Linked DNA regions of Homo sapiens. The protein of the gene in region 1 purifies or fractionates together with the protein of each later gene. This does not show direct contact. Each region holds a gene or a part of one and is shown on either strand. Other genes may lie near its edges.

What was found. Proteins that work in one complex are often made in the same cells at the same time.
Region 2: the proteins of ACTRT2 (region 1) and SLC25A19 purify together in Homo sapiens (affinity purification with mass spectrometry; one large-scale study listed by BioGRID and IntAct). This does not show direct contact.

The regions. Positions count from the first base shown.
Region 1 is NC_000001.11:3,020,148-3,023,403, reverse strand, and holds ACTRT2 (actin-related protein T2), read right to left. Parts: upstream 1,938-3,256; 5' UTR 1,718-1,937; coding exon 584-1,717; 3' UTR 501-583; downstream 1-500.
Region 2 is NC_000017.11:75,282,934-75,286,433, forward strand, and holds part of SLC25A19 (mitochondrial thiamine pyrophosphate carrier), read right to left. Parts: coding exon 3,371-3,500; intron 661-3,370; coding exon 490-660; intron 1-489. UniProt on the Homo sapiens protein: Mitochondrial transporter mediating uptake of thiamine diphosphate into mitochondria. It is not clear if the antiporter activity is affected by the membrane potential or by the proton electrochemical gradient.

The DNA.
Region 1 (3,256 bases):
CACTTGCTAAGCAGAAGTGTTGATTCTTTGTACTTCCTTTGGGAGCAGGACCCCTGAGTTTAGAGGGCCCTAAACAAACGGTGACTTCTGTTCCCGTCTGTTCCTATCTGCTGAGAGCGGCAGCTCCACCCTGTTCAGCCGCCCGGCCTCACACAAGCAGAGCCCCGGCCCTGGCATGCTAGGTAGGGCCCACACAGGGAGGGGTTTCTTGCTGAGCCGTCAGAACCTGGTGCACGCGCTAGTCCCCACCATCCCTGCCGACTCTCTCAGCCCACCTAAGACCCTTGTTTAGAATGCGGACTCCAGCGCCCTATTCACCTGAGGCCCAGGGCCCTACTTTCATACAAACTGCAGATGGACACAGCCTGGCCTCAGCCCAGGCTTTCTTGGGAGGAAGCGAAGGGGAGCGGGTGTGGACCAAGACACTTCACAGATTCACTGTCAGGGCCAGAAATGACTCTGCCGCCCCCAAGAAGGAACTGAGCCGAGGTGGCCAGGTGTTCCGGCATTGGTCCTTTATTGAACATCCTCCCAAAGCTGGGGCTAGGGTTCACCCCCCACGGTACCCAACGAGAAGCGGCCTTCAGAAGCATCTTCTCTGCACCACGGAGGTCCCAAACTCCTTGAAGTCTGCGGCGGTGACCCACATCTGCTTGAAGCTACTCAGAGAGGTGACGATGGAGGCTCCAATCCAGGTGGAGAACCACCGGTCGGGGGGAGCCGTGATCTTGATGGGGGTGTCCTTGGAGGCCAGCTGCTCCAGCTCCTTGAGAAGCCGGTCATCCAGCCCGTGGAACAGGGTAGTGCCCCCCGACAGCACAATCTCCCCAAAGAGGATCTTCTGGATGTCGGTATCACACTTGGTGATGCTGCTGGAGACCATATTCGAGAGCCCGGGGCTCTGGCTGCCCAGCTGCTGGGGCACGAACAGGGCCTCGGGCGCCTGGTGCAGCGGGTCCCCGAGGCTGATGATGTTCCCGTCGGGCAGCTTGTACTCCCTCAGGACCTCCTCCGGCCTCCGGGAAAGCTCCTTCTCGGGCTCCAAGGCCACGTAGCACAGCTTCTTTTTGATGTCGTCCACGAGACCCTTGTCCAGCTGGCAGGGGAAGGTGTGGCCGCTGGCCAGGAGCAGCTGCATGAGGAGCTCCGTGATGTCCCTGCCCGCCACGTGGAGCTTGGTGACTGCGTGGGGCAGGGAGTAACCCTCAAAGATGGGGACAGTGCAGGTGACCGCATCCCCGCTGTCCACCACCAGGCCCGTGACACAGGCAGAGGCGTAGAGAGCCAGCACCGCCTGGTCCGACAGGTAGAAAGCGGGCACGCCGAAGTTCTCGAACATGACTTCTGCCATCTTCTCACGGTTCTCCCTGGGGTTCAGGGAGGGCTCCGTTGCAAGCAGGGGCTGGTCGCTGGGTTTCACGCCTAGCTCCCACTCAAAGAGGTGCTTCCAGAGTCTCTCCACGTCATCCCACCCTGTGATCAGGCCACGCTCGAAAGGGGAGTGCAGCTGCAGGGCCTCCTGCTTGTACAGGGCCTCCTCCCCCACAAAGTACTTCTTCTGGTTGGCCTCTGCTGAGGGAGCCTGGAATTTCAGGTGCCCCACGATGGAGCTGACCATGTGCCGGGGTCCAAACTCCCCAGACAGGCCCGCTTTGCAGAACCCCGAGCCATTGTCAAAAATCACAGCCGGGGAGTCTAAAGCGTGCGGATTAAACATGCCCGCAGCCTTCCCTTCTCAGCCTCATCAAAATAAAGACCAGCCCTCCAGGGCCGCTTTGTGATGCAATAGGGGATCCCACAGCTCTTCCCACAGCTCTCGGGGTGTCTCAAGGCAGGGCTAGCACCGTGCCCGGGAGCCCTGCATCCTCAGCCGCAGGTCTGCTCTCCCTCCAGGTGGCCTGGGCCTGCTGAGGCCTCTTCCAGGGGGCCAGGGGGTTGTCTCCTAGGTAACAATCTAGCCAAGGCAACGATTGTCCTGAGCCTCAGAGGCCCTGGGGGTGGGGCTCTGAGTCCCCCATCCCCCACAGGGTGAGGTGAGAGAGAGAGAGAGAGACAAGTGCATCCTAGGGCGGTGCTGGACAAGCCTGTGGGCTGAGGCAGAGACTTAGCTTTAGAGTGGAGAGAAGCAGCCCAGCCTGCGTGCACCCTAGAAAACCAGCTTCTCTGGCCCCTGAGCTGCAACTTCTGGGGTGACAACACTTCCCTTTGCTAAGGGGGAAAACCAAGCACCAGGTCGGAGGGGTGTTGTAAGCAGTTCTGTCCCAGCAGGCACTTAGAATGTGCTTTTGAATAGTGATTCCCCCAGGAAGCTCTCAGGGATTTCTCCTCCCTCCATCCCATTAGTCCTGGCTGTCTGTCCCACTGGGTAGACCCTATTCAAAGCCCTCTGGGCTGCTGGCCCTTTGTCCAGGAATACATCTCTGCTCTGGCTTGAGGCCAGCACCCCTCATTCCTCTCTGCAGACTCTGAAGTGCCAGCACACAACAAAGTCCAGCAGCCATAGAGTTGGGAACCCAACAGCCCTGAAGATATGGCCTGCTGGTTTCACATGGGTAGCCTGGATTGCAGCCTGTGACACCTCTCTGTGTCTATGAGCTGCCACACAGTCAGGCCACAACCACAGAGCAATGCTCAGAGGTGACCAGGCCATTAAAGGTCAAGGCCTGAGCATGACCAGGAAGGAGGCACCGGGCCAGGCCAAGGGCACCCACAACAGTGCACGCCCGGCACTCAGACCCCCGCTTTGTCTTCCGCTTGGGGAGAAAGTGGGAGGGGATCCAACCTGGGAACCAGCTTCACTTTTTTCCTAAGGAGGTTGGAGGTGGCCTTGGAGAATGTGAGGTTTATTCTACCTCTCCTGTCATATCCACAATCATGCTCCAGCCCAGCTTGGCCCCCCAGAGTTCTCCCAGAGGACGCCTCCCGGGGTCACTCCCTTCCTGGAGCCCCTCAGCTCCTGCTGGTGGCCCCCTCTGTGTGTCCTGCCTGCCCTGCTGACCCACCAGCAGGCATTAATCCGATGGTGGTGTAGACACATGTTGTAGATGGGCAGTCTAGACACGTGGTACAGACATGTGGTGTAGACACGAGGTACAGACGCATATGGATGTGCCGTGTAGATGCATGGGATAGATGGGTGGTGTAGACACGCGCGGTACACTCGTTGTTGATGTGTGGTGTAGATGTGTCTTGTTGACACGTGGTTTTGTGGGCCCCACTAATCCCTGGGTGGTAGTCAACAAAAACTTGATTATTG
Region 2 (3,500 bases), on another chromosome or scaffold:
AAAAATAGATCGCACCACTGCACTCCAGCCTGGCAACAGAGCGAGACTCTGTCTCAAAATAAATAAATAAATAAATAAAAAATAGGCCGGGCGCAGTGGCTCATGCCTGTAATCCTAGCACTTTGGGAGGCCGAGGCGGGCGGATCGTGAGGTCAGGAGATCGAGACCATCCTGGCTAACATGGTGAAACCCCGTCTCTACTAAAAATACAAAAAAAATTAGCCAGGCGTGGTGGCGGGTGCCTGTAATCCCAGCTACTCGGGAGGCTGAGGCAGGAGAATCGCTTGAACTCGGGAGGTGGAGCTTGCAGTAAGCCAAGATCGCACCACTGCACTCCAGCCTGCATGACAGAGCGAGATTCTGTCTCAAACAAAACAAAACAGAACAAAACAAAAATAAATAAATAAATAAATAAAAAATAAAGAATGCTACCCCTGTGACAACACCTTCCTTATTTGGGCTTCCCCGGTCTGGCTCCTGGCCACTCACCTTGGGCTCACCCTGAGCTGCAAAGCGGGTGCGCAGAACATCCACGGGGTGCACAGTGAGGGTGGCCATACAGGCAGCCAGGCCACCACATACAAAGTGCACTGAGAATTCCCGGGCGTCATACACGCTGCCTCTGTGGACCAGCTCCGTCAGCATTTCAAATGACAAGAACTGCAAGAGTAAGTGAAGAAGTCACCGACAGCCCAAAGGATGAGGGTGAGGACCAAATACTCCCCAAATACATCACCCGTGACCCGGCTGGGGCCCAGGTGGAGGGGCGAGGAAAAGGTCAGGAAATGTTCTTCTTGAGCAGTGACAGCATATGATAAATACAACATTCTACGCAAAACTCGGATGCCATTTGATACTTGAGTAGAGTCAGACACTCAAAGGGTTAAGAAGATATATGGGGGCCAGGTGCAGTGGCTCACACTTGTAATCCCAGCACTCTGGGGGGCCGAGGCGGGCAGATCACGAGGTCACAAGTTCGAGACCAGCCGGGTCAACATAGTGAAACCCTGTCTTTACTAAAAATACAAAAATTAGTCAGGCATGGTGGCGGGCACCTGTAGTCCCAGGTACTTGGGGGGCTGAGGCAGGAGAATCACTTGAACCCGGGAGGCAGAGCTGCACTGAGCCAAGATCATGCCACTGCGCTCTCCAGCCCGGGCGACAGAGCAAGACTCGGTCTCAAAAAAAAGACTGGGTGCAGTGGCCCACGCCTGTAATCCCAGCACTTTGGAAGGCCGAGGTGGGCAGATCATGAGGTCAGGAGTTGGAGACCAGCCTGGCCAATATGGTGGAACCCTGTCTCTACTAAAAATACAAAAATTAGCCAGGCATGGTGGCGTGGGCCTGTAACCCCAGCTACTTGGGAGGCTGAGGCAGAAGAATCGCCTGAACCCAGGAGGCGGAGGTTGCAGTGAGCTGAGATTGCGCCACTGCACTCCAGCCTGGGCAACAGAGTGAGACTCTGTCTCAAGAAAAAATAAAAAAGATACATGAGAACAATGTATATCAGAAAATGTCACTGGCTAACTTAGTTTTCTGAGAACTGGGGAAGACGGCCATGCTCTGATTCCTGCAGGGACCCCTTCAGTGCAGCTGGCGGCGGCACCTGGTGGCGGCACTGTTCGAGAATCATTCTTTTCTGGGGCAGATTCTTTTGGGAGCATGTTCCACAGGGTGACCCCCTTACATTCAGATCTTTCTTTTTTTTTTTTTTTTTTTTTTTTTAGGGACAAGAGTGTCTCTCTGTCACCCAGGCTGGAGTACAGTGGCACAAACACGGCTCACTGCAGCCTCAACCTCCTGGGCTCCAGTGATCCTCTCACCTCAGCTCCTCAAGTAGCTGGGATTACAGGCGCATGCCACCATGTCCAGCTAATTTTGGTATTTTTTGTAGAACCAGGGTTTCACTATGTTGCCAAGGCTGGTCTCAAACTCCTGAGCTCAAGCAATCTGCCCGCCTTGGGCTCCCAAAGGGCTGAGATTACACACATGAGCCACCGAGCTTGGCCCTGTTTTGCTTTTTGAGGCAAGGTCGTGCTCAGTTGCCCAGGCTGGAGTGCAGTGGCTCGATCACAGTTCACAGCAGCCTTGACTTCTCTAGCTCAAATTATTCTCCTGCCTCTGGAATAGCTGGGACGACAGGTGTGTACCACCATATCTGGCTAATTTATTTTTTATTTTTAGTAGAGAGGAGGTCTCCCTAATGTTGCCCAGGCTGGTCTCAAACTCCTGAGCTCAAGCCATCCTCCCACCTCAGCCTCCCAAAGTGATGGGATTACAGGTGTGAGCCACTATACCAGGGCTATGCTCAGATCTTCCTTCAGCCAACTGAAGATGGCCTGGCTTCTTTTCTTTTTTTGAGACAGGGTCTGGCTGTGTTGCCCAGGCTGAAGTGCAGTGGCATGATCGTGGCTCACTGCAGCCTCCGCCTCCCGGGCTCAGATGCTGGGATTACAGGTGTGAGCCACTGAGTCCAGCCCACGCCTGGCTTCTTGAGACTATCCTGTTGCTGTATTTATTCGTCATGCTGCAATATCTGTTTGCAGACAAGTGCAGAGACAGGATCGCAGGGCATGCCCAGCCAGTAAGCACCTGACTTGGGCGGTCACTGTGATGTCACAGGAAGAGTAGGAAGGGACATCTCTGGCACTAGCTGCCTAGGTGGGGGTCGTGGCTCTGCCATTTTCTAGCCAGTGGCTTTGGTTGGGTTAATTATGTAAGCTCTGTCCACCTCAGTCTTCTCATGCATGACATGGGAGGGACAACAGCCCCTACCTTAAGGACTGCTGTGACAGAGTGTATGTGAAGTGCTTCCAACAGGGGCCTGGCCCATGGTTTGCACTGTACAGGGCTGGTTCTTAAACACATCTACTGCATAAAATCACATGCTGTGCACTATGACTATACTAGTGCTCCACTGAACGAAGCATGAGTTCTAACCCTAGCCCCGCCATGTGCAGGCTGTGTGGCCTCGGACAGCTGACTTCTCCTCCCTGAGATCCACATGACAGCTACCCTGCCCTCCTCATGACGGTGTGGTGAAGTTCAGATGAACCACATATGTGAAGGTGGTATTTCAAAAACTGAAATGCATTAGTGCTGTCCTTCGCCAAGCCTCACAGAAGGCATGACATCAAATCGGTCTCCAAGATGCAACACCTAAGTCACACAGGATAGACGCAGGGACATGGCGGAGGGCAATGCCTACGGTACTGCTGGTCAGGAAGGCTCCCGGGTGAGGCAGGTGGGAAGCGTGGGGCCTGCCTCTTCCGTCCTGCCCTGCGCGGCATTCCTGCTTGCCTCACCCTCCCTCTGCTCCTCCACTGAGCAACGTGACCCCAGAGGTCTGGCCAGGTCCCTTGCCACCTACTTGGACAGCTCCATAGCCTATGGAGAGAATCTGAGCTGGGACGTGTCCTTTCCAGAAAGCTGTCGGACCCTCCTCCTGCAGAATCTGCCTAGAGGCCTGGAGGATGCCATGGTACTTTGCGCTGGGGTCA